Linked DNA regions of Homo sapiens. The protein of the gene in region 7 interacts with the protein of the main gene of each other region in a biochemical or structural test. Each region holds a gene or a part of one and is shown on either strand. Other genes may lie near its edges. The genes, in order: TEX29, CILK1, PDE12, MBNL1, IRF3, NFIA and FBXO7.

What was found.
Region 1: of the proteins of FBXO7 (region 7) and TEX29, one has a biochemical effect on the other in vitro, tested with the Homo sapiens proteins (one large-scale study listed by BioGRID).
Region 2: of the proteins of FBXO7 (region 7) and CILK1, one has a biochemical effect on the other in vitro, tested with the Homo sapiens proteins (one large-scale study listed by BioGRID).
Region 3: of the proteins of FBXO7 (region 7) and PDE12, one has a biochemical effect on the other in vitro, tested with the Homo sapiens proteins (one large-scale study listed by BioGRID).
Region 4: of the proteins of FBXO7 (region 7) and MBNL1, one has a biochemical effect on the other in vitro, tested with the Homo sapiens proteins (one large-scale study listed by BioGRID).
Region 5: of the proteins of FBXO7 (region 7) and IRF3, one has a biochemical effect on the other in vitro, tested with the Homo sapiens proteins (one large-scale study listed by BioGRID).
Region 6: of the proteins of FBXO7 (region 7) and NFIA, one has a biochemical effect on the other in vitro, tested with the Homo sapiens proteins (one large-scale study listed by BioGRID).

Annotation. Positions count from the first base shown.
Region 1 is NC_000013.11:111,340,731-111,344,733, forward strand, and holds the end of TEX29 (testis-expressed protein 29), read left to right. Parts: intron 1-2,025; coding exon 2,026-2,201; intron 2,202-3,352; coding exon 3,353-3,393; 3' UTR 3,394-3,518; downstream 3,519-4,003.
Region 2 is NC_000006.12:53,054,986-53,058,988, forward strand, and holds part of CILK1 (serine/threonine-protein kinase ICK), read right to left. Parts: intron 1-4,003.
Region 3 is NC_000003.12:57,562,399-57,566,401, forward strand, and holds part of PDE12 (2',5'-phosphodiesterase 12 isoform 1 precursor), read left to right. Parts: 3' UTR 1-4,003. UniProt on the Homo sapiens protein: Enzyme that cleaves 2',5'-phosphodiester bond linking adenosines of the 5'-triphosphorylated oligoadenylates, triphosphorylated oligoadenylates referred as 2-5A modulates the 2-5A system. Degrades triphosphorylated 2-5A to produce AMP and ATP.
Region 4 is NC_000003.12:152,439,426-152,443,428, reverse strand, and holds part of MBNL1 (muscleblind-like protein 1), read right to left. Parts: intron 1-4,003. UniProt on the Homo sapiens protein: Mediates pre-mRNA alternative splicing regulation. Acts either as activator or repressor of splicing on specific pre-mRNA targets. Inhibits cardiac troponin-T (TNNT2) pre-mRNA exon inclusion but induces insulin receptor (IR) pre-mRNA exon inclusion in muscle.
Region 5 is NC_000019.10:49,658,912-49,663,200, reverse strand, and holds the end of IRF3 (interferon regulatory factor 3), read left to right. Parts: coding exon 1-13; intron 14-583; coding exon 584-776; intron 777-872; coding exon 873-1,253; exon of another isoform or gene 1,254-1,751; intron 1,752-2,356; coding exon of another isoform or gene 2,357-2,372; coding exon 2,373-2,488; intron 2,489-3,367; coding exon 3,368-3,553; coding exon of another isoform or gene 3,554-3,612; 3' UTR 3,613-3,629; downstream 3,630-4,289.
Region 6 is NC_000001.11:61,088,648-61,092,650, forward strand, and holds part of NFIA (nuclear factor 1 A-type), read left to right. Parts: coding exon 1-33; intron 34-4,003.
Region 7 is NC_000022.11:32,477,308-32,481,310, forward strand, and holds part of FBXO7 (F-box only protein 7), read left to right. Parts: intron 1-1,673; coding exon 1,674-1,968; intron 1,969-4,003. UniProt on the Homo sapiens protein: Substrate recognition component of a SCF (SKP1-CUL1-F-box protein) E3 ubiquitin-protein ligase complex which mediates the ubiquitination and subsequent proteasomal degradation of target proteins and plays a role in several biological processes such as cell cycle, cell proliferation, or maintenance of chromosome stability.

The DNA.
Region 1 (4,003 bases), on a different chromosome or scaffold from region 7:
GAAAATCATAACCCGTGTTTAGTGAGCACCTGTGCTTGTTGATGAAAATCATAACCCGTGTTTAGTGAGCACCTGTGCTTGTTGATGAAAATCATAACCCGTGTTTAGTGAGCACCTGTGCTTGTTGATGAAAATCATAACCCGTGTTTAGTGAGCATCTGTGCTTGTTGATGAAAATCATAACCCGTGTTTAGTGAGCACCTGTGCTTGTTGATGAAAATCATAACCCGTGTTTAGTGAGCACCTGTGCTTGTTGATGAAAATAATAACCCGTGTTTAGTGAGCACCTGTGCTTGTTGATGAAAATCATAACCCGTGTTTAGTGAGCACCTGTGCTTGTTGATGAAAATCATAACCCCTGTTTAGTGAGCACCTGTGCTTGTTGATGAAAATCATAACCCGTGTTTAGTGAGCACCTGTGCTTGTTGATGAAAATCATAACCCGTGTTTAGTGAGCACCTGTGCTTGTTGATGAACATCATAACCCGTGTTTAGTGAGCACCTGTGCTTGTTGATGAACATCATAACCCGTGTTTAGTGAGCACCTGTGCTTGTTGATGAACATCATAACCCGTGTTTAGTGAGCACCTGTGCTTGTTGATGAACATCATAACCCATGTTTAGTGAGCACCTGTGCTTGTTGATGAAAATCATAACCCGTGTTTAGTGAGCACCTGTGCTTGTTGATGAAAATCATAACCCGTGTTTAGTGAGCACCTGTGCTTGTTGATGAAAATCATAACCCGTGTTTAGTGAGCACCTGTGCTTGTTGATGAAAATCATAACCCGTGTTTAGTGAGCACCTGTGCTTGTTGATGAAAATCATAACCCGTGTTTAGTGAGCACCTGTGCTTGTTGATGAAAATCATAACCCGTGTTTAGTGAGCACCTGTGCTTGTTGATGAAAATCATAACCCGTGTTTAGTGAGCACCTGTGCTTGTTGATGAAAATCATAACCCGTGTTTAGTGAGCACCTGTGCTTGTTGATGAAAATCATAACCCGTGTTTAGTGAGCACCTGTGCTTGTTGATGAACATCATAACCCGTGTTTAGTGAGCACCTAAGACTCTTAAGAGCTCTGCTCAGCCTTTTCAGCCCTTGAAGCCACTGACGATGTAAGTGAACTTACTGTCCCCGGACTGGGATGATTGACGCAGCATCGAGGGGGTCCCGAGGCTGATGGATGGGGCAGTGAGGCTCTAACTCAGGCTCCCAGTTGTCTCAGAGTCCCTGAACCCAAGGCTGCCTGCATCTCTTGGCCTGTGGCCTGCGTCCTCATTGCAGGGTGTCAGGGTTTGGAGGTGTCTCAGAGATGAGTCCACTCCCTCTCATTTTAATGGTGAGGAAATGCAGACCCGGGGGGCCAAGGAAGCAGGTGGCTATTCCCAGGGCAGGGCTGGAATCCAGCATCTCACTCCCCGGCCACCACCTTCACCATGAGCCCACTCTGTGTGCATACAAGCCCCTGAGATTATTTGAGTCTCTTTGTCCAGGAATGAGTAAAGCCATTTTCCTACCATGAGTGGTGCTGTATGCTGTCTTATGTGTGTTAATCATGAAGATGAGCCGGCAGTAGCCTGCAGTGCAACACACACCTTCCCCCTGCCCGGAGCTGTCTTTGGGAGTCTAGCTGCCTCATACAGCCATCTGTTTGGAGCCTGCACAAGAAACTAAAATGAGGCTGGATGTGGTGGCTCATACTTGTAATCTCCCAGCACTTTGGGAGGCTGAGGTGGGAGGATTACTTGAGCCCGGGAGTTGGAGGCTGCAGTGAGCCGTGTTTGTGCCATTGCACTCCAGCCTGGATGACAGATCAAAACTGTCTCAAAAAAAAAAAAAAAAAAAAGAGAGAGAGAAAGAAACGAAAATGAGAACTATTACATCAAAGCATTTACCTTAAAAAATAAGTATGCATGATCAGGAACCTGTGTTTTCAGAGGGATGTCCTGGTGGGTGGGAGGGAGGAACTGGAGAGTTTTCCATCTGTAACTTCCCTGACTGTGATAAAACCCTCTTCCCATCAGAGTCATTCAGGAGAGCAGGAAAGAAAAGGCCATCCCTGTGGATGTCGCGCTGCCACAGAAGTCCAGCGAAAAGGCGGAGTTGGCCTCATCCAGCAGCAAGTTAGGGCTGAAGCCTGCGAGTCCTGGGCCTCCAAGTGCTGGGCCCTCGATGAAGAGTGACGAGGATAAGGATGATGGTGAGAAGCTTCTGGAATGATCCTCAGCCTAAGGTCAAGGGCGTGGCTCTGTTCCCTCGGGAGACCTTCCCTGGGAAGGGGCTCAACATCTACACAGGCCCTTCAACCTCAGTGATCAGTGTTGCAGTTTGTTCAAAATTGTAATGTACCCAACATTGGAGGTTCAGGTTTGCAGGGTGGATGTGGCTGTCAGTGTGAGTTTCCTTCTGTGAGTCTTGTCCTCCCCCTTCCCATCCCCTTTTGCCTCCCTGTCATTTCACCCTCTGGCGGGGCCCTCATTGTTAGTGTGGGAAGCTCCTGGGGAGGGGGCAAGAGTCCTGCAGAAACTGCACATTTGATCAGGTGACTTCCTGTGGGGAGGCTGCAGGGCTGCCATGGGTACTCTCTGTGGCACCCTGGCCACGTGGTGGTCTTGGTTGTGCAGGGAGGCTGCCAGGCTGCTGTGGGTATTCTCTGTGGTGCCCTGGCCGCCTGGTGGTCGTGGATGTGCGGGGAGGCTGCAGGGCTGCTGTGGGTACTCTTTGTGGTGCCCTGGCCACGTGGTGGTCGTGGTTGGAGAGGTGGACGATCACTCTATGCCTGCTTCGGTTTCCAGGAAGGAAAGTTTCTCATATGTTGGTTTACCTGCTTTGGGGGCCCTTGGAGGTTGCCGGTTGCTTTTCCTAGATCAGCACCTTGCCAGGTTAGAGAAAGAAACATCTCAAATGGTAATCCTTATCTTCAGAGATGTTTGTACAGGATACAAACGGCCTGGCCTTACCCATTGTTACCAAATAGACTTGGCTTTACAGGGACCATCAGGAAAATCAGGAGGCAGGGTAAGAGGGCAACCCACACTTGATTTCAGATCTGGAATGCCTGGCCCCTAACTGAGGCTGCGTCTGTGCAAATGAGGCTTTCCTGCAGGACAGATGTTTGCCTGGTTAAGGGAGCCTCCTGTGTAGAGAGATGATGTGGGAGGAAGAGTGTTTTACTGTCCCCTAGAATGCAATGAGAAACATAGGAGGATACGGCCATCCCCAAAACTGGCTTTTGAATCAATCATTGCCAATCAGACACCATGTAGATGGGTTCAAAGATCCTGATGAAATCTTTTCGGGACTGCTGAATATTCCATTTGAAAAAACAATTCTTCTTTTCTAAAAATCTAGTAACAGGGACAATAACAGAAGCCGAAGAAACTGAGGACTGACTGAGACGCATGAAGAAGTGGAGATTGTCAGAATTATCCAAATGAAATGGTACAGCAGGTGCACTGTTAACAGTGTGATGGAATGACCACCCAAAGAGAAAAAAATAAAGGTATTTTGAAAATTGCTTCTCGTCCGATGTTGCTTATTCATTGCTATATTTTTATCTTAGGAGAGAGAAAGCCTGTGGGGTAGGAGAGTGGGAACCTGAACTTTCAGTTTTTAATGGCACTGCTTGTCACTAATATTAACACTATGGGGGCTCACAGCATGGGCTCAAGGTGGTGTCCTCGAGGTCTTCTTTTCAGAAGGCAGGCTGCACTTTCACCAAGAGTGGGCTGCCACACAGACACAGGCGGTTCAAGACTCTGGCATTTGGCTTTGCTAGGACTCAGCCGTGCTGCGAGGGAGGAGCAGCGTCTGGATCTGGATCTGAGAGGCCCCAAAGCATAGGCCGTAGCTGCCTGAGAGCCCCTCATGCAAGGCAGTGCGCTCAGTCCCAGAGTGGCCGACAGATGCTCACAGGCACGCGCAGGCCGGCCCAGGGCAGCCCACGGATCTTGGAGGCTCCGTTTTCTCACCTCAAAAATATGCATTCTACCCAGGAACTGT
Region 2 (4,003 bases), on a different chromosome or scaffold from region 7:
TGCCATCATTACACATTTTCTAAGACAGGAGACAAAAAGTTACAGCAAACTTGGGGTTCTCTGGGAGTTGTGGTTTACCAGGCCCACTGACACCATTCAGTTCCTTAGAAGGAGCTTGTCTCCCTTTGCATTAATTATCTTACATTGAAAAGATTCTGTTACTTTCATTTATCCTCCTAGGAAAAGTGGATTATATGCAAAATCATTAGATGACCCTTCTCATGGTAATTCTGAGTTCCATTTTACCTTTACAGGTTTATAATTAGACTTCGTATTCTAGGTTTGAATGTGTCCTAACTTTACAAAAGTCAGTGAATACTGTTAATTTCTTTTAAAAAGGTACTAGAAATAGTATATCCGGGTTTATGTTTTTCTCCTGGACCTAATTCTTCTGCCTCTGTACATTTTAGCAAGCAAACCTTTTAAGCATTTTGCCTCTTGGACTACTGCTTTTTTTCTGCATAAGGAATAGCAGTTACAAAGCCAAAAGGACCTTCTTTACATGGATCTTGCTTTGTCTTTACCTTGACAGAGGAGTGAATTAAAGATGCATTCAGCTATTGCATCAACTGGATGTTAACAAGAGAAGATAATCCGTTACATGATGTGCCTTCTTCTGTGCCCCAGAAACTTCTTCATACCTTTACCATCCCTCTCCTCTTTCAATCCCAGCTTCTGAAAAAAGAACTCGTCCTGCACTAGGTCCTTAATCCCATGAGAAGCTTCCATAACTCCCTGTCGCTTCTCTTACAATATAAAAGGTGCTCACGCCTTGAACCTTAAAAAAGTTCTTCAATCACTTGCAGATGATTTTTAAACTAGGACACATAGTTGGCTTTGGTGGACTGTAAAGAACTGAAGTAAAGGCGAAATGTTAAAAAAAATAAAAAATAAAAAAACAGCCAGAAAAACAAACCTTTACCCTGCCATGTGTGAAACTGTAGATGAGCTAGAACGAGAGTCCCCAGCTTAATGAAAACTGCCGAGGGTGGCAATAGTCCTGCTTGCCTGTGTTTCAGGGGTGGGCAAGATAAGGGATAGTGAAGATAGGGGAGTGACTAAGAGCATATCACAAGTTCATGTAGATAGTAACTTTCATGATACTGGCAAATAAGTAGCTGGACGTTACACAATAATACTTTACCTTTCTGGTTCTAACGCATTATCTTTTACGGTAGTTACAAGGACAGCCACATGTTATCAGTATTTATATGCTATTACAACACATTTGACTAAGGAGCTGATCTCAGTGTAAGATGCTTTGCTAGCATGTATACAAAAAATCAAAATGAATTAAAGGAAGTAAAGGCTTAATGTAAAAATAAAATAGGGCAGGGATAAGCACGTTTTTTCTGTGAAGGGTCAGTAAACAGGATAGGCTTTGCAGGCTCTCCATCTCCGTCACAACTCCACTCTGCCATTGTAGCATGAAAGCAGTCAAAGACAATATGTAAATACATGGGCATGGCTGTGTTCCAGTACAAATTTATTTACAAAAACAGGCAGCAGGAAGGACTGGCACACAAGCCATAGTTTGTCAAGCCCTGAAGATGAGGAAATCCCCCAAATAAGCAGAAGCACTTTAGTACTCTCCATAGAGCCCTCACTTACCCCTAGGTTACAGGGCTACATACAAGCTGTGTTTAACCTTAGAATATAAGCTCTGTGAGGTCAGAAACGTTGCAATATTCACAACTGTATTCCCAGTACTCAGTTCCCAGAGAACTGGCATAGTTGGCACAAGTACGGACTCACAATAAAGACATGTTCAATGAATTAACTAATGAATGAACAACTTATGGAGCTTTAAAAGGCAATCCTGACCATAGATGATTTTCCTATACTACCACGTCCACCCTCACTGTCATCCCGTCACGCCCCACTTCTTTGCAAACTGGACAACTGTACTGGGACTAGGGTACCAAAATTATGACTCCTTCTAAAAACTTTTACACTAATTTAGGAAAAAACTTGCTTTTCAACAGCTAAGATCACATGAAGGCATGTATATCTTACATTTTTCTTACTCCCCTTTGTCTTAGTTAAATCATTCTCTAGTAAATTCTCTTTCAAAGCAAAGGCAATGTCCAAGAGGGCAAAACCATTAATAACTATCTTTTGGGAACCACAAGTTCATGCAGATAGTAACTTTCATGATATTGCCAAATACGTATTTGGGCATTATACAATAGTACTTTCCTTTCCGGTTCTCAGGCATTATCTTTTATGGTAGTCAAAAGAGCAGTCACATGTTATCAATACTTTATCACAGGTCATGCTTCACCTATAGAAAGGTAAAAAATAACTCACACTGATCTCTCCTAAAAAAACGTGTGGTTCTCATAAGCTCTGGGCCATCGTTATACATTTATTAAGTGGCTACTAAGGGTTCTTGACATGGTGGGAAAAGCACCAAATGAAAAGCAAGGCACTATTGTGGCCCTTTCATTTCAAAAAAAGTGAGTTAGGATGACAATCATCTGCTAGGAACTACAAGTTCACGCAGATAGTTACTTTCATGATATTGTCAAATATAGTTGGACATCACACTTATAATACTTTATCTTTTGGTTCAGAGGCATTATCTTTTATAGCAGCCATGATGAGCTTATTTAAAGATAAAATATAACTGAATGCTAATTAACATAGATTTGAATGCTAAATTCATTAGGAACTATGTTCAAAGCCTAATGTTGAACAAACTTCAGACAATAGAGTTAAGAATTTTTTTTTTCTGTAAAGGACCTTAATGATCACTTGACATTCTCACTCTACAGATGAGATCCAACTAAGAAGAACAGAATACTTGCTATCTTCAGAGTAGAATATTTTGAAATGTGTGAGTATAATACATGTTTTATAGCCAACTAAAGATGTATCAAATGTTCCCCACGTGCTCCTTGGTAAAAAGCATATGAATATTTTGCTAATCCTGAGCCCATATAGTTTAAAAAAAGGGGGGAGCAGATGTTTGAAGATGTGCTATCCTCAAACTCAAACATGACTTCACATGTCAACATATGTTGGATTTGATTTCAGCCTGCTCAGGTAAGTCCCACGACAAGACACTCTTCCTACCCAGGAAGACTTCAACTTTCAAAGCACAGAGAGTCAGGTACTTAATGTGCAAAGATAGTTCAGTTTCCTTGGAAGAAAATCAGGAATAGAAGCCTTCTGTTTGGGTTGAGTGTTTCCCTAAAACCTGTTGAGTAGTAGTTTTTCCTAATATTGGACAGCAGTTAACTAGGAGCAGACAGATTGAATGAAGATGCCCATATCAACCTTGGTTACCACCTTGAGGTAGGCCTGAGCTGCTGCTTTTACTTCTTTGGCTGCAATCAAAGGCATCTCTGATTTTCTTCCTGCCACAACATTTCCTTAGCATTTTAATGCAATTTGCCCCAGAAAATGATTTGTTTCACCAAATTCTTTTTACTAGGTAATTTTCTAGAACACATGTGCTTTTATAAGGAAGTTAAAACTGTATTTCAAAGGTAAGCACAACCACAAACTAAGACACAATTACACTGTAATCCCAAAACGTGTATAAGTCATCCGGCACACACACACCTCTGTTTGCGCATTCTCCCTGATTCAACCACATCAACCATAAACACTGAGGTTCACAGATAGGAGAGTTCTAATACTCTAAACATAGGCCCTTCTCAGAAAGCCACAGTCATCAAAGACCACAGGTGAAAGACAACAGTTAAATGAGATACTATTCACAGGCTTTCAGATCAACATACACAGAGAGGTCATTATATCCAGAATTCTCCCAAGGAACCACCAGGCAAATACACACACTCACATAGATCCCACAAGCAGAAAAATGCATTTTATAAGGGCAGACATCAATAGAACGGCTAGGTACCACTCCAACTCTGCAAGATCCTACAAAATGAAATGGAGGAGACTGCTGCAAGAGGAGCAGTATAAAAAAAAAAAATTAAGCAGTAGTGTTCCTGGCAAGGTTCAGATGGAAAAACAGCAACAGATCCCA
Region 3 (4,003 bases), on a different chromosome or scaffold from region 7:
CTCCAGTATACGGATACGTTAAAATGATTGGAGTCCAAAGGTAGGGAACACTAAGAAAATGTATAAATAGCATACACATTTCTTTGTACTCATGAGTTAGAATGCAGTGTTATTCAGAAATGTCTGTTTAAAGCACCTATGTGATTGCATTTTTCTATTACATTTGGATTTTTTAGTACATTTAATTTTAAGAAAACATGGGAAATCTAGCGACTTTCTATGGTAAACCACATTTTATAATGTCACAAGTTCTTGCTATAGGAATTAACATTCTAGAATTTTATATTGATTATAAAAGAGTATTTCAGAACATATTATTCTGTTAAAATGAACTCTTGCACAGTTGCCGCTACAGCAAATGTGTCTGCCAATAATCAAAATTCATGAGCAAACAATCGTTTCTGGCTGTAATGTATGTTCTTTTTGAAATTCTGTATGCTAAAATCAGTTGTTTCAAAATTTCAAGAATTCCACTGAGTAGTGATTTTTCTGAGTACTAAGCTATGATCTCATCAGAATGTGCTGGTTTCAGTCTGGAGATAGATTTCTGAGGAGCCTAATACAAGGGAGAGAATGTCCAAAGAACACTACTGTGGAAAGTTCTTACGATGGAAATTGACATCTTTTGTATCTCATTCTCCAGCCGTGAAATAAAGGCAGAGGTTCCCTGCAAACTAGTTTGGTTGGGATAAATCCAATATTTATATATAATGAAAAATAAAAGTTTGCATTATTAGTTTATCACAAGACCCATGTGACAACTCAGAAAATATTCTCAGCATAATTTTTTTAAGAGATAGAGTCTCACTGTTACCCAGGCTGGAGTGCAGTGGTGCAGTCATAACTTACTACAGCCTCAAACTGCGGGGCTCAAATGATCCTCCTGCCTCAGCGTCCCAAGTAGTTGAGATTACAAGCCCAACCTTCCATAACTGAAAACTAACTTTCTTTTTTTCTTTTTTTATTATTATACTTTAAGTTCTAGTGTACATGTGCCCAACGTGCAGATTTGTTACATAGGTATACATGTGCCATGTTGGTTTGCTGCACCCGTTAACTCGTCATTTACATTAGGTATTTCTCCTAATGCTATCCCTCCCCCAGCCCTGAAAATGAATTTTTTAAACACAAATAAAAAATATTTCAGTGTTTTGAGAATTTTAATAATTTGCTTAATATAGTACAGGAAGGCAACACTATCTAGAGGGCCAGGCATAGTGGCTCTTGACTGTAATCACAACATTTTGGGAGGCTGAGGCAGGAGGATCACTTGAGCTGAGGAGTTCAAGACCAGCCTTGGCAACATTGTGAGACCCTATCTCTGCAAAAAATAAAATTAACCAGGCATGGTGGTGCATGCCTGTAGTCCCAGCTGCTCAGGAGGCTGAGGCCAGAGGATCACTTGAGCCCATGAGGTCAAGCCTGCAGTGAGTTGTGATCAAGGTGCGCTGCACTCCAGCCTGGGTAATAGAGCAAGACCCTGTCTTCAAAAAACCACTCTAGATTTCATGTTGTAGGGGGTAGGGAGGACAATTTTTAACAGCTTTAACTGACATGGGTAATATATAAGTTCTGTGTTCTCACTTTATATGAAAGTACTTTTTTAAATGTTAAAAATACTAGAGCTGTATTAACTTCGTGATTTTATTTTTCTTCTTAGCACTAACTTCAAAATAACCATACAGTACTGCTTGTAATTTTTGTATTTTTAGTAGAGACAGGGTTTCACCATATTGGCCAGGCTGGTCTTGAACTCCTGAACTCAAGTGATCTGCCTGCCTCAGCCTCTGAAAGTGCTGGGATTACAGGCATGAGCCACGGTACCCGGCCTAAATTTTAATTTTATATATAAATGGCAAAATAATCTTAAATATAGTAAATCTGTTCACCTATCTGCTATGCTAGCAAATTCTGGGTTGTCAAAAATCCATGTTCATACTGTCAGTGTTAGATTTTTACTCATAATTTAAAATTTCCCCGCAAAATTTCACAGAAAACTGAATTATTCATCTCTATCTTCTGTCCAATTTATGTAATGAATGTATGTCAAAGCATTTATATAACACAGTCCATTTTGCCCAGTAATTCACTTTAATGATGTTATCATGAAGTATTGATGTACTTTTTTTTTAGTGTATTGAAGTATTCCTAGGTTGCATTTGTGCTAGTTTCATACCATTTGTGTTCCTTATATATTGAAGATGGTTCAGTAGGGGAAATGGATAGGCTTTATTTAGTTGGCTTTCTTATACTGGATAATATAAACACTTTTTTTTTCTTTTTTGAGACAGGGTCTGGCTTTGTCACCCAGGCTTGGAGGGCACTGGTGCCATCACGGCTTACTGCAACCTCCACCTCCTGGGCTTATGCAATCCTCCCACCACAGCCTCCCCAAATAGCTGGGACTACAGGTGCGCACCGCCACACCTGGCTAATTTTTGTATATTTTATAGGCAAAAAAAAAAAAAAAAATGGTTTCACCATGTTGCCCAGGCTGGTCTTGAAATTCTCAGTTCAAGCAGTCCACCCACCTCGGCCTCCCAAAGTGCTGATATTACAGACATGAGCCACCCCACCCAGTCAGCACACATTTTTTTTTTTTTTAAATAAGACAGGGTGTTGCTGTTGCCCAGGCTGGAGCGCAGTGGCATGATCATAGCTCACTGCAGCATCAAACTCCAGGGCTTAAGCGATCCTCCCACCTCAGCCTCCTGAGTAGCTGGGACTATAGGTGCATGCCACCATGCCTGGCTAATTTTTTAAATTGTTTGTAGAGATGGGGGTCTCTCTATGTTGCCCAGACTGGTCTTAAACTCCTGGGCTCAAATGACTCTCCCGCTTCAGCCTCCCAAAGTACTGGGATTATAGGTGTGAGCCAGCACACATAGCCCTTTTTTTAAAAAAATTAAAAACAAATTTTTTCTCCAGAAAAAAACATATTTATCAACTTTTAAAAACATTTTATGGGTACATAGTAGGTGTATATATTTATGTGGGACATATTTCTTTTGATAGAGTAAATTGAGTATTCATCACATCAAGCATTCATTTGTGTTACGAACATTCCAATTGTACTCTCTCAGTTATTCTAAAATGTGATATACACACTTTTAAAAGGATTTATTGCGCTGGGCGCGGTGGCTCACGCCTGTAATCCCAGCACTCTGGGAGGCTGAGGCCGGTGGATCATGAGGTCAGATCGAGACCATCCTGGCCAACATGGTGAAACCCTGTCTCTACTAAAAATACAAAAATTAGCTGGGCATGGTGGCGCGCGCCTGTAGTCTCAGCTGCTTGGGGAGGCTGAGGCAGGAGAATCACTTGAACCCGGGAGGCAGAGGTTGCAGTGAGCCGAGATCACGCCATTGCACTCCAGCCTGGCAACAAAGCGGGACTCTGTCTCAAAAATAAAATAAAATAAAATTTTAAAAAAAGGATTTATTGCATATAATTCTTATATCCCCTGTGGAATAGTTTGGAGAAATGGTACATCCAAAGATAAAATCAGTTAGAAATAAACAGTGGCCTTCCTCAGAAAAGCTGGGCTATAGTGTTTTGGGTATCTTAAACCAAGAAAGGGTATTTCTATCCCAGCTGTAGAGTTTTTAATAATTCTATTATAAATAATGGAATCAGGCCAGCACAGTGGCTCACGTCACATAATCCCACTCTCCTTAAGAGCTTTTTTTGTCACTGCATATCAACTCAGTTGACAAGGACTGGCCCCCAAAAGAAGCTGCATACTCACTTGGCAGTCACTCCCCATTCTCCCTAGCTCCTGGCAACAACTTAACCTGTCTCTGTGGATTTGCCTATTCTGGACATTTCATATAAATTGAATCATAATTTATGTAGTCTTTTGTGACTGGCTTCTTTTACTTAGGATGTTTTTAAGGTTCTTACTGTTGTAGGATGTATCAGGAGTTTGTTTTTATGATGAATGTTCCATCTTATGGACGTACCACATTTGTCCATTCATTAGTTGACAGACATTTGAATTGCT
Region 4 (4,003 bases), on a different chromosome or scaffold from region 7:
TATGTCAATGTAGGCATCACCAAACAGGAAACTTGCAGAAGGTCTATAAGTGATCTCTCTCAGCTGCTATTTGCTCCCTCAGTAATTCCTGCTTTCTTGAATATGCTCAAAATGAATTGGCAGCAGGGAACTAATACTCTACTTTTCCAATTTAGGTTACTCTTTGCCGCATTAACAAGAAAGAAGACTTGAATTTATTTAGGTTCTGTGTGTATGTATTTGCATGTGTGTGTGTGTGGGGGGGGGGGTTTCTACAGGTTAAGGATTGGTTTATTATAATTTCATGTTCTTTACTCTCCTGTGGAACATTTAGAAAGAATTCTAAAAATATTTAAGCAGACTTAATAACTAAGAATTAGCTCAGAATGTGTCATAAAACCAACCTTTTCTGAGGTTAAAAAAAACTTAGTCAACTGCTTTTGCATAATATGCATGTTTGACTCTTTCATATTTTTATTTTTTTTTACAGCTTACGGTTTCTCCTAAGAAATAGGACAGAAACATACTGTAATAGCTACTCTCACATTATTCTTGCTTGTGAAAAAATAAGGAAGAGAAAATCTCTTGTGAAAACTTGTACTGGTGAGAGTTACAGGCCAGTGGGACTGGAAATTTACCAAGCATTAGATATGCATCTGAATAGTGGGGTACCTATGGGAACATGAACTTCCCAAACCTTCTAAAACACATTTTCCCTAATAGACATCATCAATAAAATGGGATCTATCCCTTGGTTGCTCAATATGAGTTTGATCTGGTTTCTCTGATAAACTCAAGGACACTTTAGACTATGCTGATACCCAAAATAAATCTCTTAGACATACTATTACATTAGTAAATTATAACTGACAACATTTCACAAATTTAATCTCATAATTAAAAACAGGATAAGAAATTATAACATTTATCATACAGAGAATTTGAAACAGAATATAAAATTAAATCTGAAAATTCTAACAACACTGTGGTTCATTTTTCTCTTCTCATCCAGTCTTCTGTATGTATGCACACATTTTTAAAAATAATTGTAATTATAGTATAGCTATTATTTGGTGATCTTTTATGCTCAACAATGCAGCATAAGCATTTCTCATTTTGCTAAATAATTTCCAGAGTGAATACTTTTGATGGCTGCATCAAATTTCATCAAATAGTGTACATAATACAGGTAACTCTTTTGGAGGATATCTAGATAATTTCCAGTATTTCCATATTACAAGTAATATTCCAAGAATATATCCATGACTATAGGCATTTTTCATTATTTTTGGCAGATAAATGTACAGATTTATTGGTATATGTGTATGTACTGGGTCAACACATAAAAATATTTTCTGACTGGGCGCGGTGGCTCAAGCTGGTAATCCCAGTACTTTGGGAGGCTGAGGTGGGTGGATCACTTGAGGACAGGAGTTCGAGACCAGCCTGGCCAACATGGTGAAACCTCATCTCCACTAAAAATACAAAAATTAGCTGGGCATGGTGGCAGGCGCCTGTAATCCTAGCTACTCAGGAGGCTGAGGCACGAGAATTGCTTGAACCTGGGAAGTGGAGGTCGCAGTGAGCCAAGATCGTGCCACTGCACTCCAGCCTGGGCAACAGAGCAAGACTCTGTCACAAAAGAAAAAAAATATTGTTTGATAAATGGTTTTCAAACCTGCATTAAAACAATAAGATCTATTTAGCTACACATATAATGTGATTCAACATGAGCCTTTTACTTTACAAATACTAAGGCAAGATTTGACAATGAAGATATTCACTGAAAACATTTAAGTTCTATTTCCAGAAAAACATCTATGGAATAATTATAAACTTTAAATAATCAAAAGAAAACATAATCAGGAAAATTTCCCAAGAAAATGTAAATTAATTCTAAATAAACCTTCTTTTGTTAACTAAATAGCAATAATATAGCGGACAGACAATAGGGTTTGGAGTCAAAAATTGTGAGTTCCAGTTCCTATCACTTTACTAGCTAAGGAATCTTCACAATGAAAACACTATTAACATCTATTTAAAAGGTCATGAATACTGAATAAAATAATGCATAGCTTACAACACACCATACAAATCTGGATAATATGAATAATCCTGTCATTTGATCTCTAATTTTTTAATACATGAAAAACTATATTTCAAAATGGTCAAAATAACGTAAGTTTTATAAGTAGTATTAAACTCAGCAATGCTCTCAAGTTAAAGCACTGGGATTCTAAGGAGATTAATGTCAATATTTGAATTTATTCAAAAGTGGAGGGTCATTTGCATATTCTTTAAGGAGATATCCCTTTGAGGTAATATGTTTTGTGTTCACCATATTTGTATAATTAACTCAGTCATCTTGGAGAATAACAATCAAAAGCAGGAACAGAAAGCTAATTATAACAAGAAACAGGGACTTTGTCCATTTTAACATTTTGAGAAGTCAATTTAATAGTTAATGGCCAATATTAAGAAACGTATTCAAAGACATATAGCTACATGTTCACCAATAAGCAGCATGGACTTCACTTTCTATTAAGCTGGAACTAACAAGCTAAATTTTTCTAAGTATTACTTTAAAAAGTAATCCTAGATAATCACTTTGATCAATCACTTTGATCAAAGTGTCCACAGCATCGCTGATCATGAGTTTATAATTTAATGTAAAGAAATTATCTCTATTTTCATTTAAAAAGGATTAAAATATCTACTTTGTAATCCTCATAATTCTGGTGATTAGGTAAATGTAACTGTAGTCAATTTATTGTACAATTAAAATCCCTAGATAAATATCGGATGATGTGATTTCTAGTTTCAGTTGGTGATATGGTTTGGCTGTGTCCCCACCCAAACCTCATCTTGAATTCCCACATGTTGTGGGACAGACCCGGTGGGAGGTAATTGAATCATGGGGGCATATCTTTCCTGAGCTGTTCTTAAGATAGGGAATAAGTCTCATGACATCTGATGGTTTTAAAAGGGTTATGTCCCTGTGCAACCTTTTTTCTTGTCTGCCACCATGCAAAACGTGCTTTCCGCCTTCTGCCATGATTGTGAGGTCTCCCTAGCCATGTGGAACTGTAAGTCCAATAAACCTCTTTCTTTTCGTAAATTGCCCAGTCTTGGGTATGTCTTTATCAGCAGCGTGAAAATGGACTAATACATTTGGTTATTCAATAATTGTACATATTTGATCAATTTTTCTCCTTCCAAAAAAATTCAAGAAAAGGACACCTACTTTAGCTACCTCATAGTATTTCTGTTAGGATCAAATGGGAGCATTCTTTGAAGCCTAAAAGGCAGACTCCATCATTACTATTCAGGCCAGAAAACACAAGCATGCTTCTATAGGTAACAGAACTAAGAATCTACCACTTGATCTCTTATAAAAACATAAAATAAAATCTGAATAGGAATGACCAAAGACAGAACCATTAAATCCACTTCCACGTTGTCATTTATTCATTCCCATGAATGACTGTGCAAACCCAAGAGGACAGGAAAATAGACACAACTTTGAAACAAGCTTGTCAATACACCAAATTAGCCATTACCTTATTTCATTTATGTTATTATTATTATTATTATTACTACTTGAGATAGGGTCTCCCTCTGTCACTCAGTCTGGAGTGCAGTGGTGCAATCTCAGTTCACTGCAGCCTCAACCTCCCTGCTCAAGTGATCCTCCCACCTAAGTCTCTCAAGTAGCTGGGACTGCAGGTGTGAACCACTGTTCTTAATATAGCAATTACTATACTCTATACCATATCAAAACTCTAATCACATAGATTAATAATTGACAGAGCCATAGTGTATTAAATTGTTTAAATGAAGATGTGACTACATTTTTAAGAGCCATTCTAAAGTTTATTACAGATATAAAAAAACAACCTACATAAACCTCTATGTGAAAACTCTTAAGGTTTCTTGGCAATTTTCTGGAGATAGTAAAAAAAGTCACACAAGCAGTAGCCAAACATCCTCTACAAAAATGCAAAATTAAAATAATCCTACCGAT
Region 5 (4,289 bases), on a different chromosome or scaffold from region 7:
TTCTGATACCCAGGTGAGAATGTGCCCAACTTTCATGCCCCTCAGTCTCCGACCTGTCTCCATGGGCCTTGTCCTCTCCCTCTAGACGATCCCCCCACTCCCCTGCCTCCAGCCTGCCCCTCACCTGAGCCAGTGCTGACCCTGTCTGTCCCTGCCCCGGTCTCCTCAGGAGAAAATTCCAAGTCTTCACCCAGCATTCAAGGCCCGAGCACACCTTCCCGGGATTTCATGGATTTCGATTCGCAGGGGGCTGTCAGCCTCTTGGGAACTGAAAAACTCCCTCACCTTGATCCTGCTGAGGCCCAAGCTGGGGGAGCATCCCCTCTGAAATTCTACCCAGCCTGCTTTGCCCAGGTCTTACCTGCATAGAGCCAGATCCTTGGGTTGGAATGGTAGCACCTGGCGTTCATTAGTGTTTGTTTGGCTGTTGATGCCATGGCTGGCTCTGTCCCCAGGCTGGAAGCCCCTTGAAGGCAGAGCTCAAGCCTGACCTCCCTGCGTTGCTGAGAACAGACCTGGTCCATATGAAGTCTCCAGAAAAGGATATGGAAATGCCTGATTCTCTTTTTTTGTTTCCCTCCAGGAAGACATTCTGGATGAGTTACTGGGTAACATGGTGTTGGCCCCACTCCCAGATCCGGGACCCCCAAGCCTGGCTGTAGCCCCTGAGCCCTGCCCTCAGCCCCTGCGGAGCCCCAGCTTGGACAATCCCACTCCCTTCCCAAACCTGGGGCCCTCTGAGAACCCACTGAAGCGGCTGTTGGTGCCGGGGGAAGGTGAGTGTCAGCTGCAGGCTGGGAGGGCTGAGGTCTGGGCGGCAGCCCCTGATTCTCAACCCCTCTCCCCTTCATGCCGCTGCTGCCGCTGCTCAGAGTGGGAGTTCGAGGTGACAGCCTTCTACCGGGGCCGCCAAGTCTTCCAGCAGACCATCTCCTGCCCGGAGGGCCTGCGGCTGGTGGGGTCCGAAGTGGGAGACAGGACGCTGCCTGGATGGCCAGTCACACTGCCAGACCCTGGCATGTCCCTGACAGACAGGGGAGTGATGAGCTACGTGAGGCATGTGCTGAGCTGCCTGGGTGGGGGACTGGCTCTCTGGCGGGCCGGGCAGTGGCTCTGGGCCCAGCGGCTGGGGCACTGCCACACATACTGGGCAGTGAGCGAGGAGCTGCTCCCCAACAGCGGGCATGGGCCTGATGGCGAGGTCCCCAAGGACAAGGAAGGAGGCGTGTTTGACCTGGGGCCCTTCATTGTAGGTGAGTGAGACAGGGGCTTCGACCTGGCCAGTACAAAGCAGCCTGCACAGTGGTTAACAACTCAGGATTGGCCGGGCACGGTGGCTCACGCCTGTAGTCCCAGCACTTTGGGAGGCTGAGGTGGGCAGATGACAAGTTCAGGAGTTCGAGACCAGCCTGGTCAACATAGTGAAACCCCATCTCTACTAAAGATACAAAAAAATAGTCGGGCGTGGTGGCACGTGCCTGTAATCCCAGCTACTCGGGAGGCTGAGGCAGGAGAATTGCTTGAACCCAGGAGGCGGAGATTGCAGTGAGCTGAGATCGCACCACTGCACTCTAGCCTGGTGACAGAGTAAGACTCCATCTCGAACAACAAAAAAAAAAGAACTCATGATTAGGACTGAATTCAGACGCTGGCTGCCCTTGGCCCGCTGTATAACCGAGGCAAAGGACTTTGCCCTGAGCCCGTGGAATCCAAGGATGGTCTCCTCTCTCTACCTGCCTGCCAGCGCTGGGGTGAGACACAGGCCCAGTACACAGAGCCTGCTCAGGGAATTAGCTGCCACTGTCATCATCATCGTAACTAATGATGGTGAACAGACCAATAGCAGGAAAGCTACATCCCTTAGGGTTTCGCTGTGCAGTGGCACTTTCTGCCATGATGGAAATGACAGTCACCTGCACTGTCCGGTGCAGCAGCCACTAGCCACAGGGGCCAAGCACTCAGGTGAGGCGAGTGCAACCAGGACGTGATTCGTTTTAATTGGTTACAATTTAAACTGAAATAACCTTACATGACTAATGGCTGCAATTGGACAATGCAGCCTCAGACAGGACTGAATGCCAACCAGCTTCTCCAGATTCACTGAGCATCCTTGGGAGCATGGGCCCCCTACTCTGGGCCTGTTATGAATGCTGAGGCTTGGGGGCTTGGGGGTGTGGCCTTCCAACAACCCCACCCTGATGGGAGGGAGGGAGGGAGGGAAGGAGGGGACTTTCCCCAAACAAGCAGTCCCCTGGTCGAGGCAGCAGAGGGCCTTAGGTCAGGGGAGGTGGTGGGGGTTATCATTCAAGTTTACGGGGAAGGGTGGGTAGAGGGTCCTCTTCTCATCCCTGACTAGGCTCCTGGGCCCCCAGATCTGATTACCTTCACGGAAGGAAGCGGACGCTCACCACGCTATGCCCTCTGGTTCTGTGTGGGGGAGTCATGGCCCCAGGACCAGCCGTGGACCAAGAGGCTCGTGATGGTCAAGGTGCCTGCAGACCTGAGTCCCTGGGGCTGAAAGGGGTGGCCTTACAGAGGGAAGAGGTTGCTCCCAGGAACTCCAACTCCCAGAGGGCCCTCTAAAAAACTGCAACTTCCAAGATCTCTGCAATAACCAGTTTTTCATCCCCGGGAGCTCCTTCCCATGGCCTCACCTGCAGAACCTGTTTTGAACTCTCTAAACCAGTGGCCCCCAAACTATTTGGCACCAGGGACCAGTCTCATGGAAGATAATATTTCCACGGACAGGGAGGTGTGGTTTCGGGATGAAACTGCTCCACTGCAGATCATCAGGCATTAGATTCTCTTAAGGAGCAGCCGATCCCTCACGTGCGCAGTTCGATAGAGTTTGTGCTCCTCTGAGAATCTAATGCTGCCGCTGATCTCACAGAAGGCAGAGCTCAGGCAGTAATATTCCCCCACCCGCTGCTCACATCCTGCTGTGCAACCTGGTCCCTAACAAGCCGTAGGGGGGTTGGGGACCCCTGCTCTAAACCATGTAGAAGCTGGTGGACTCAAGTTTTAGCTGCCATTGTGAGGCCATGGCTGTGGCTCCCAGGAGTCAAGATCACAGACTGCTCAGCCCTGACGTGTGTGTGTGTGTGTGTTTGTGTGTGTGTGTAAAACTACAACTCCCAGCAGCCCTAGGCCTATGGTTCAGTTACAGCAGGGGGTGTGTGTGTGTGTGTGTGTGTGTGTGTGTGTGTGTGTGTGTGTAAAACTACAACTCCCAGCAGCCCTAGGCCTATGGTTCATCCTAGGTTACAGCAGGGGCTGCAGGGAGTTGTAGTCCTCCAAGCCCTGACTCCTACCTTGGTGGACAGTGGCTGGGTGTTTTCCCTGACTCCTGTCCCCACTTCCCCTGCAGGTTGTGCCCACGTGCCTCAGGGCCTTGGTAGAAATGGCCCGGGTAGGGGGTGCCTCCTCCCTGGAGAATACTGTGGACCTGCACATTTCCAACAGCCACCCACTCTCCCTCACCTCCGACCAGTACAAGGCCTACCTGCAGGACTTGGTGGAGGGCATGGATTTCCAGGGCCCTGGGGAGAGCTGAGCCCTCGCTCCTCATGGTGTGCCTCCAACCCCCCTGTTCCCCACCACCTCAACCAATAAACTGGTTCCTGCTATGATCACTTGTGCGTGTCTGGTGTTGGGTGCCCTCTGACCCAATATGGTTGTTATTCCCGCTCAGGGTCTCAGTTTACCCATCTGTGCAGCTATATACAACTCAGGTGCTCAATGCATGAAGACCAAGCACTGCAGGGGGCAGCTGACACCTCCTCACTTCTGCCCAGGGACCTGGTGGGTGATGGCTGTCCCCGTGTTGTAGACCAAGACACAGGCTGGGAGAGGCGCAAAGGTCACAGAGTAGGAAACACAAAGACTAGCCAGAACCCAGGCCCCCTGCCTTGCCTATGAACAGTTTGGGCAAGTGGTCCTTCTCCTTCCAGGCCTCAGGCTCCCCTCCACGTGGGGCTGGAGGGGTCTTGGTAAAGGGGCTCTGCGGCCACCCTGGAGCCTGCAAAGCCTGCCTGCCTGGTGACCCTGGGCACTGTCACCTCTCCTGGTTGGGCCGCAGTTCTGGGTGATGAAACTGGCAGAAGCCAGCGCAGCCCTGACTCACCCTTCGGCCCTTGCTGCTCTGTGCCTCAGTTTCCCTCTCAGGACAGTTGATGAGATCACCCCAGCTTCACGGGGCTGCTGAAAAGAGAAGCCAACTCAATGGGGAACACAGATCCTGCTCTGGGAGCAATTCCAAGGCAGGCACATGGCACCCAGGAGCCGAGCTG
Region 6 (4,003 bases), on a different chromosome or scaffold from region 7:
ATTTATATTTGGCATACTTTGTGCATGCAGCAGGTAAGTGCGATGGTGAGAATTCCTCCCACTTTCTTGTGTGTGTTTCTTTCCTGATGGCCTCCGCGTTATGCCGGATTCTTCCTGAGCTCCCCAAGTTGCAGGCCACGTACATGAAGCCAGTGTGGTTTCAAAGATTGAGAGAGGTGCCACCTTCATTCAGGTGAAAAAGCATAGCTTTGAGCGAATTCTCACTAAGTTCAGCTCTTTTGGTAAGTAGTGTTTTCAGAGGCGTTGGTAATCAGATATGTGATATGTTTAAATCACATTTTTTGATGAGGGGATGAGAGAAGCCTCGTGAAAACCCTTTTAATAAAGAGTATATTTTAACTGACAAATGATCTAGTTTAAAAGCATTTATTTTGGTATTGAGGCAATATTTTTAGTTGGTTTTCTGCTGGGAGTGTTTTTAACCTACTGAGGCCTCTTGAACCCCTTGCCAATTAAGAAGTTGGAGGTAGATTACTATCAAATTGCTGATCATTTAGGAAGGAAAAATAATCACATTAATACGCAGACTTAGTAGCTTTGTATTTAGGAATTCTTAGTGTTGTCTCAGATAGCTAAGGGAAACAAACCAGCTCTTTCAGTAATTGATGGAGAGGTTAATATTAAAAATAACCAACCTGTATATTGCATGAACACATTGAAAAATTGCTATTGATAATTGATGTAGTGAGTTGCTTTGATTGTAAAATCTTAAATTTTTTTTCTGTTTTTTCAAGGCATGTCTTACCTGTGCATGTTTCAGTGTTTAGAATAGCATGCAGGATAAAACTATTGAGGACTGGATAAAATAATGCATTTTTACTTTGTTCCTTTCGTCTTGTTTTAGACAAAAGGCTCATTGTGCTATGTGAACGCTCAGGTCTTGTGTAACTTGTTGACTTTATATATGTACATATCGGTCTTGCTAGATTACCTTCATGGCAGTTACTTGAGCCAGATGGAAGAAAGAGGGTTGTGGAATCCTACCAGTAGGTTGTTTTGGGGTTCAAATATTTAACGTTTTTTTTTCTTTTTTTTTTTTTTTTTTTACAAAGGAGAGATGTTACCTGTAAAAACACTGCACTTTTCTTCAAAACATTTTTAATTCTAAAAATGTTAGTGAGTTTTTAAAGAAGCCAGCTGATAGCCTGTTCTCTATTATTTTTCTCAATATATGTTTTAGAAAGAGAACTTTTGTTATCCATCTGCCCTTACATAAGAAACTGGAGAAATTAGCTTTGCAAGCATGTCACATCATCATTTGCATTCTGTTGGCAGGGGATAGATGAGTATTTTAGAGGATGTGAGCTGTAAGTGTTTCAAATATTTGGGTTTTCAAAAATGTATACTTAATTATAAGAATTGCCTTTTGCTTTAGCCAATTCTGGGTAGCAAGAATGAAAAGTCAGCACCTCTCAAGTGACCTCTAAGCAGGAATAAGTAGCCCTTTTTTAACCCACTCTTAACCCTGTTGTTGTTCATTTGTTTTGTTTACTGAAAAAGTAAAGTTAAAATTTTTAAAAAATGTGTCTGCATATGTTAAGCACAGCAAAACGCAAAAAAAGTATAGGTGTTACAGGTGCTTTCAAGAAGCACTCTTTAAAATCTTGTTTTTACCTTTTAGATATTTAGAAAAATATAACCTATAAATTATCCCGAATAGATGACCAACATCGAAACTTGAAAGTGCCAACAGGTGATGCAGATCATGATGTGTGCTTCCATATAAGATAACATCAAAATGAAATACCTGTGAAGTTTTTGTCGGTGTAAGCAGTGTCCATTCTAAGTTTTCGTCTTAAACATTTCTCTGTTATTTAAAGAAATGCAATCTTTTCGCTGTTCTCATTACGTGCCTTCTTTTTCGTCGTTGGTTTGTTACTGTGCTATTGCTCCCAATCCTTGAACTAACACAGTTGTTGGTTGTTGCAATGCCTGAAGGGGTTATGTTGGTAAAATGACATTTAGAAGGTTACTTAGGAGAGTTAGCATCCTTATTGCTTATGAAAGATTTATTGACAGCAGCATAGATCAGACTACTCTTCGGTTTGGTTTTCCTGATGTATCCCAGAATCCCTTGTTATGCCTGAATGCCAGCCAAATGTTTGGCCATTGGTTTTCACGGGACCGCAGTAATGGCTGCTTCTCTGTGCGCGCAACAGGAAGACTGTAAAAGAAAATATTAAGGGTCTTTTGTCTGAAAATATTTCAAATTTGATTTAAGAGATTCAGAGACCTGTTATTTGTGGAAGGGAAGCTGCCAATACAAATATGAGGTAGATCGGTCAACTTACATACAACTGATTTGACAAGCATCTGTTATAATACTGAAGATTTGTAAACACTAAACAATGTTTTTACCTCCTTAAAAGTTTTGAGAACTTGCCAGTATTGGCAGGAGGCAGAGACTCTGAAACGTGCTTCAAGATACATGCCAAAACCATTGTGGCCTTTTCACCTATAATGCGTTTTTTCTCGCTCTTTCTTTTAAATTGTTATATTTTTTTCCTTTCCAGAATGCCTTTTTTTCCCCCTAGATGGTCATAGAAATTAGATCTTCTTTTCCTTCTGAAATTTGTGTGTAATAATTCTTGCTTTATGTGTCCACCTTTCTTTGGTAGGAAGTTGAAATCTCAGAACATACGTGAGAATACTAGAAGCAAATGCAGAATCAATCTTTTTTTTTTTAAAGCGGAGGTGATTTATTCTAAGACTTATTGACATGCTAAAATATAATACATAAACTACATTCCAGTTTTTTCCCTCTAAATCCAGTGGCATTAGAACTGTGAATTTTGTGGCTGATAAGCAGTAACAAGTGTAATGAAATTGGAGTGATTTCATAAGCCTGAGAATTTCATCTTGTTAAAAGAACAAAACCATTTTATGCCCTTAATTTGGTCTCAATTTGAGTTGTCCTTCCCATGTATCATATGACAACTTGGGGATACTATGGTATTGTGGCAAATGGTTTTCTTTGTGGGTGTGTAACAGTAAAGCTAATTTATGACCAGTCTTTACCAGATGATCTGTATCAGAATCTACAATATACCCGGCACGTGGCAAGGTCACAATTTAAGTTGTTAAGGTCATAACCTTAGCCACCAGGCATTTGACCTTTTAGATAAAGTTAACCTTTGTTCATTAGTAGGCACTCAACCGAGAAGTTTCTGGAGAGTTGTTGTTTTTTTTTTTTTAACCACTTCTGTATAAACTTCTGGTAATGTAATCAGATTCTAGAAAGATTCTCAGTCAAATTAGTTAGATTTTGTGAAAGGTTATACTTTTTAAGGACTCATTTCTTGGATAGAGGCAGGTTGCTATTTTTAGGCCATAGAATGACAGTTTCACAATTTATATTTGATATTATTACCTGCCATGGGGTAGAATAAAAGCTTGGAGGCAGCTGTGTGGGGACATTTAAAATCTAAAATTAAACAAATTAATTTATGTTTAATTCAACTAAGGCCTTTGCTAATTTTCAAGTGACATTAGGCCTAAAAGCTAAATCACAGTGAGCCATCTTCACTTTTTGCAGATGAGGAATTTTCTAACATTAGAAGTATTTTTAGCAGTCTTAAAATTCAGTTTGAAAGATTAATAAGTGACCACAATTTGTCAGGTAATTGCTTTAATTGTTAATTAGCCAGTGACAAAGCAAGTTGCTGTTGTCCTAATGGCAGCAGTATGAGTACTTGTTAGTTTTAAGGTAGAAAGAGAACACTTTTGCACGGTAATCTTTTAGTGCAGTAGTTACTGATTGCTTCCATGCTGCTACCATTATTACCTTTACTTAATTTTGCTTGCATCAGGAATAGCAAAGATCCTTTCAATCACTGAAGGAGCTGTTTCAGTGTCTCGGAAGCCTGATACCTGTCCTATAAACCTACTCAACAGTATTACTGATTACCACATTACCTGTACCATATTGTTCACTTAATTATGCTGACATGAATGCTCATTTCAAATTATTTAGATTCTTGCT
Region 7 (4,003 bases):
TAAACAATATAATTTTTAAAGGACTTCATCTTTTGTTAACCTCTCAAAAAAGTAATGAAATTAGCATTGCTGAGTGTAAATGTTTTTAAAAATGTTTTATAATGTTTTGTTATTGTTCCTCACCACTGTGTGATGAAAAACATTTTATTCTTCTAATGTCAAATAATCTGTGATGCAGAAAGAATGGGAGTTTGTTGCTTCCGGGCTTATTTGAATTCTGAGCTTGTTTAACGTGGGCTTTTGGGTTTGCGCTATGTTCCACTAAAAGGCATCATAACTGATGATCAGTAGAAGGGTGAATTTAGCTTGTCATCATCAGTAAGAGAGATGAATTTATACTCAGTCATATACATAATACTCCTCTAACTTTTTGTGATTATGAATATATGGATCTGGTTTTTCGGAACCATTATAAGTAAACTGTCCTGTAAGGATATTGAATAGACATCCTTGATTTCACGCTCATCTCTTGATCTTCCCAACTAGTGTTTGGTGGTTGCATTTATTTCACAAGTACTTTATTTGCCAGTGTTGAAGATATGGTTTGAACTGTTCAGACAAGATCGCTGATCTTATGAAACTTAAGTTGTAGTGGCAGAGGTAGGGTAGACAGATCATAGACAAGTAAATACGATGTTTTCAAGTAGAACATAACAGAATAGAGAGCGCTGGAGTCTGAATGAAAGGCATCTCTGAAGAGGTGACATTTGGGCTGAGACTGGAATGATGAAGAGGAGTCAGTCATTTGAAGATCTGGAAGAACAAACGGAGAGGCCCGAAGGCTGCAATGAAGTTGATCTGCTTTTTGGAACGGATGGAAAGCTCATGTGAATAGAGAACAGTGAGAGAGGATGGATGGCACAGGATGCAGTAGGAGAAATGGGAAGAGGTCAGACGTTGAGCTTTGGAAGTTAGGTTAAGGATTCCAAATAGAAGCTATTGGAAGATTTTAAGTGAAGGAATGATGTGATCTAATTTGTATTTTAAAGGTATTTCACTGAATCTTAGTTGCTGTCACTTGTAAGACATATTGTTTTATGTAACAGCAGGGGAAAATGCTGTCAATTGATATGTCATTGATTTTAGGAAGTATCTTAATTTCAAAGATGTCAAAAAAAATTTGTGCATCTTAGAATTGAGGAAAGCATGGATTAGTGATAGAGGATTACTGTATCCCGTCCCCCAGGTGGAGAGTTTTAGCCATTAGAAATCTATAGATTAGGCATTCATTGATAAATACTTTTGATAATTTTCTCAAAACTATAAGCTTGATAGGGTAATGCGTGCCTATAGTCCTAGCTCCTCTGGAGGCTGAGGTGAGAGGATTGCTTGAGCCCAGGAATTTGAGGCTGCCATGAGCTGTGATTGTGCCACTTCACTCCAGCCTGGGCAACAGAGTGAGACTCTGTCTCTAAAAACAAACGAAAACAAAAACAAAAATGTAGCTGGACATGGTGGCTTATACCTGTAATCCCAGCAACCCAGGAGGCTGAGGCAGGAGGATTGCTTGAGGCCAGGAGCTTGAGACCAGCCTGGACAACATAGTGAGACCTTGTCTCTTCATCACTTAGTTCTTCTAGGGTCATACTGTGTACTTATGTATGCTTCAGATGTGCTATTGAAGGTATTAGAAGTAGGTAGTTCTTACTATGCTTATCTGTCTTTCTTGGCAGTTCTAATACCCGATTTACAATTACATTGAACTACAAGGATCCCCTCACTGGAGATGAAGAGACCTTGGCTTCATATGGGATTGTTTCTGGGGACTTGATATGTTTGATTCTTCAAGATGACATTCCAGCGCCTAATATACCTTCATCCACAGATTCAGAGCATTCTTCACTCCAGAATAATGAGCAACCCTCTTTGGCCACCAGCTCCAATCAGACTAGCATGCAGGATGAACAACCAAGTGATTCATTCCAAGGACAGGCAGCCCAGTCTGGTGTTTGGAATGACGACAGTATGGTGGGTATTAAACACCAATATATCAAATAGAGTAGGTGATAAGTCATATTGAACACCTCAGTTGAATTCTGTTCCAGTCAGGATAATTATCATCGATAGATTGCACATTTTATATATATTTTTTTCTTTTTTTTTTTTTTTGAGACAGAGTCTCACTCTGTCACCAGGCTGGAGTGCAGTGGCGCAATCTCTGCTCACTGCAACCTCTGCCTCCCAGTTCAAGCGATTCTCCTGCCTCAGCCTCCCGAGTAGCTGGGACTAGAGGTGCACACCACCACGCCCAGCTAATTTTTGTATTTTTAGTAGAGACGGGGTTTCAGCATGTTGGTCAGGATGGTCTCGATCTCTTGACCTCGTGATCTGCCCTCCTCGGCCTCCCAAAGTGCTGGGATTACAGGCATGAGCCACTGCGCCTGGCTGCAGATTATATTTTTATAGAATATATTTTTTTTAACTGCCAAATGCCTGTACCAATATGGGGCTGGCATCCCAAAGTACCTAGTGTCTGTCTGTTTTGTTCACATACTCTCCTTCAGATCAGTTATTCCTTGACTTCTATTATTGTTCCTAAGCTCATGATTCCTAGCCTTGCTTCTCTGATCTGGTCCGCTCATTAAGGCTATAGATGTGGTCTAATTATTTCCAGATGACTTGCAGGATATTTATACCTGGATTTTAAATTGTCATTGCAGACTTTAGATGTTGAACATAAATTTGGAAATATGTGTGCTCAGTTCCCTTCTTTGTCAGTGGCACTGCTGGTTTTCTGTGATTTTTGACTCCTTAAATCTAGCCCATTAATAAGCTTTGTCAGTTCTTCTTTTCCATTTCGGGTTCCATGGCTTTATTCCTCAGTCTGTTTTCTGGATTTGCCTTCTTCCTACATGGTTCTGATGCTATTGTTCCCTTGCTGTCTTTCATAACTCTATCTCATAAACTTGTGCTCATAATTTTTGAGCTGAAAAAGACAATATATCTCTAGTTCAACCCTGTCATTTTACAGAAGAGGAAAATGGTGTCTGTCCTCCTGTACCTAGTGCTCAAGGCTTTCTGAAAAGTTACTCCACTCAACTTTTTTAGGGCTAGTTTCTGTTCTTCCTTCCTTTAAACTGTCATCTCCAATCAGAACAGACCCATCATTTTCCCCCGCCCCCACCAACCAGCACATTCACCTGCTTGCATGCATGTGCACACACACAACCTGGTGACTACTTTTGTGACTTTGCTCTTGCTGTTCACCCAGACTGGAACCTGTTACCTTTCCTCCCTCTCTAGTCTATATTTCTACCCATCTTCCTAAGCCCTTGCCAACCATAGCCCAATAGTTTTCTTTAATTTCTTTGTATTGATTATCTGATTATCTTTATTGCCTTGTACATGCCTCCTCATTTTTCCCACCTTTTTTTTTTTTGGTGACAGGATCCCACTCCCTCACCCAGGCTGGAGTGCAGTGGCACAATCTCAGCTCACTGCAACCCTACCCTTCCGGGGTCAAGCGATTCTCCCACCTCAGCCTCCCGAGTAGTTGGGACCACAGACACCACCACGCCTGGCTAATTTTTGTATTTTTGGTAGAGATGGGGTTTCACCATGTTGCTCAGGCTGGTCTTGAACTCCTGACCTCAAGTGACCTGCCCACCTTGGCCACCCAAAGTAATGGGATTACAGATGTGAGCCACCGTGCCTGGCCTTTATCCGCCCTTTTAATTTTTTGAATGGTGCAAATGATCACCTTTATTTTTTTAATACCAATACACATGCCTTCTTGTTAATTGGTTTTTGTATGTATGCTTATCACCTCAATTTAATTGCTGGCCTTAAACATTTTTGAGTATAAGTATTCATGGTAACTTGTCATGGCATTAAGTATAGACATATTAAAAAATACTTTTTAATAGATTGGTAAATTGTGAAAATTATGTCCAGATATGTGGATTTTAATTTATTTTTAAAGTTATTGTTTTATCTGTGTGTTTCTGCCTCATAGAGGTAAACTGGGGAATGAGTAAGAATATTTCGCTGTATATTTAAATTA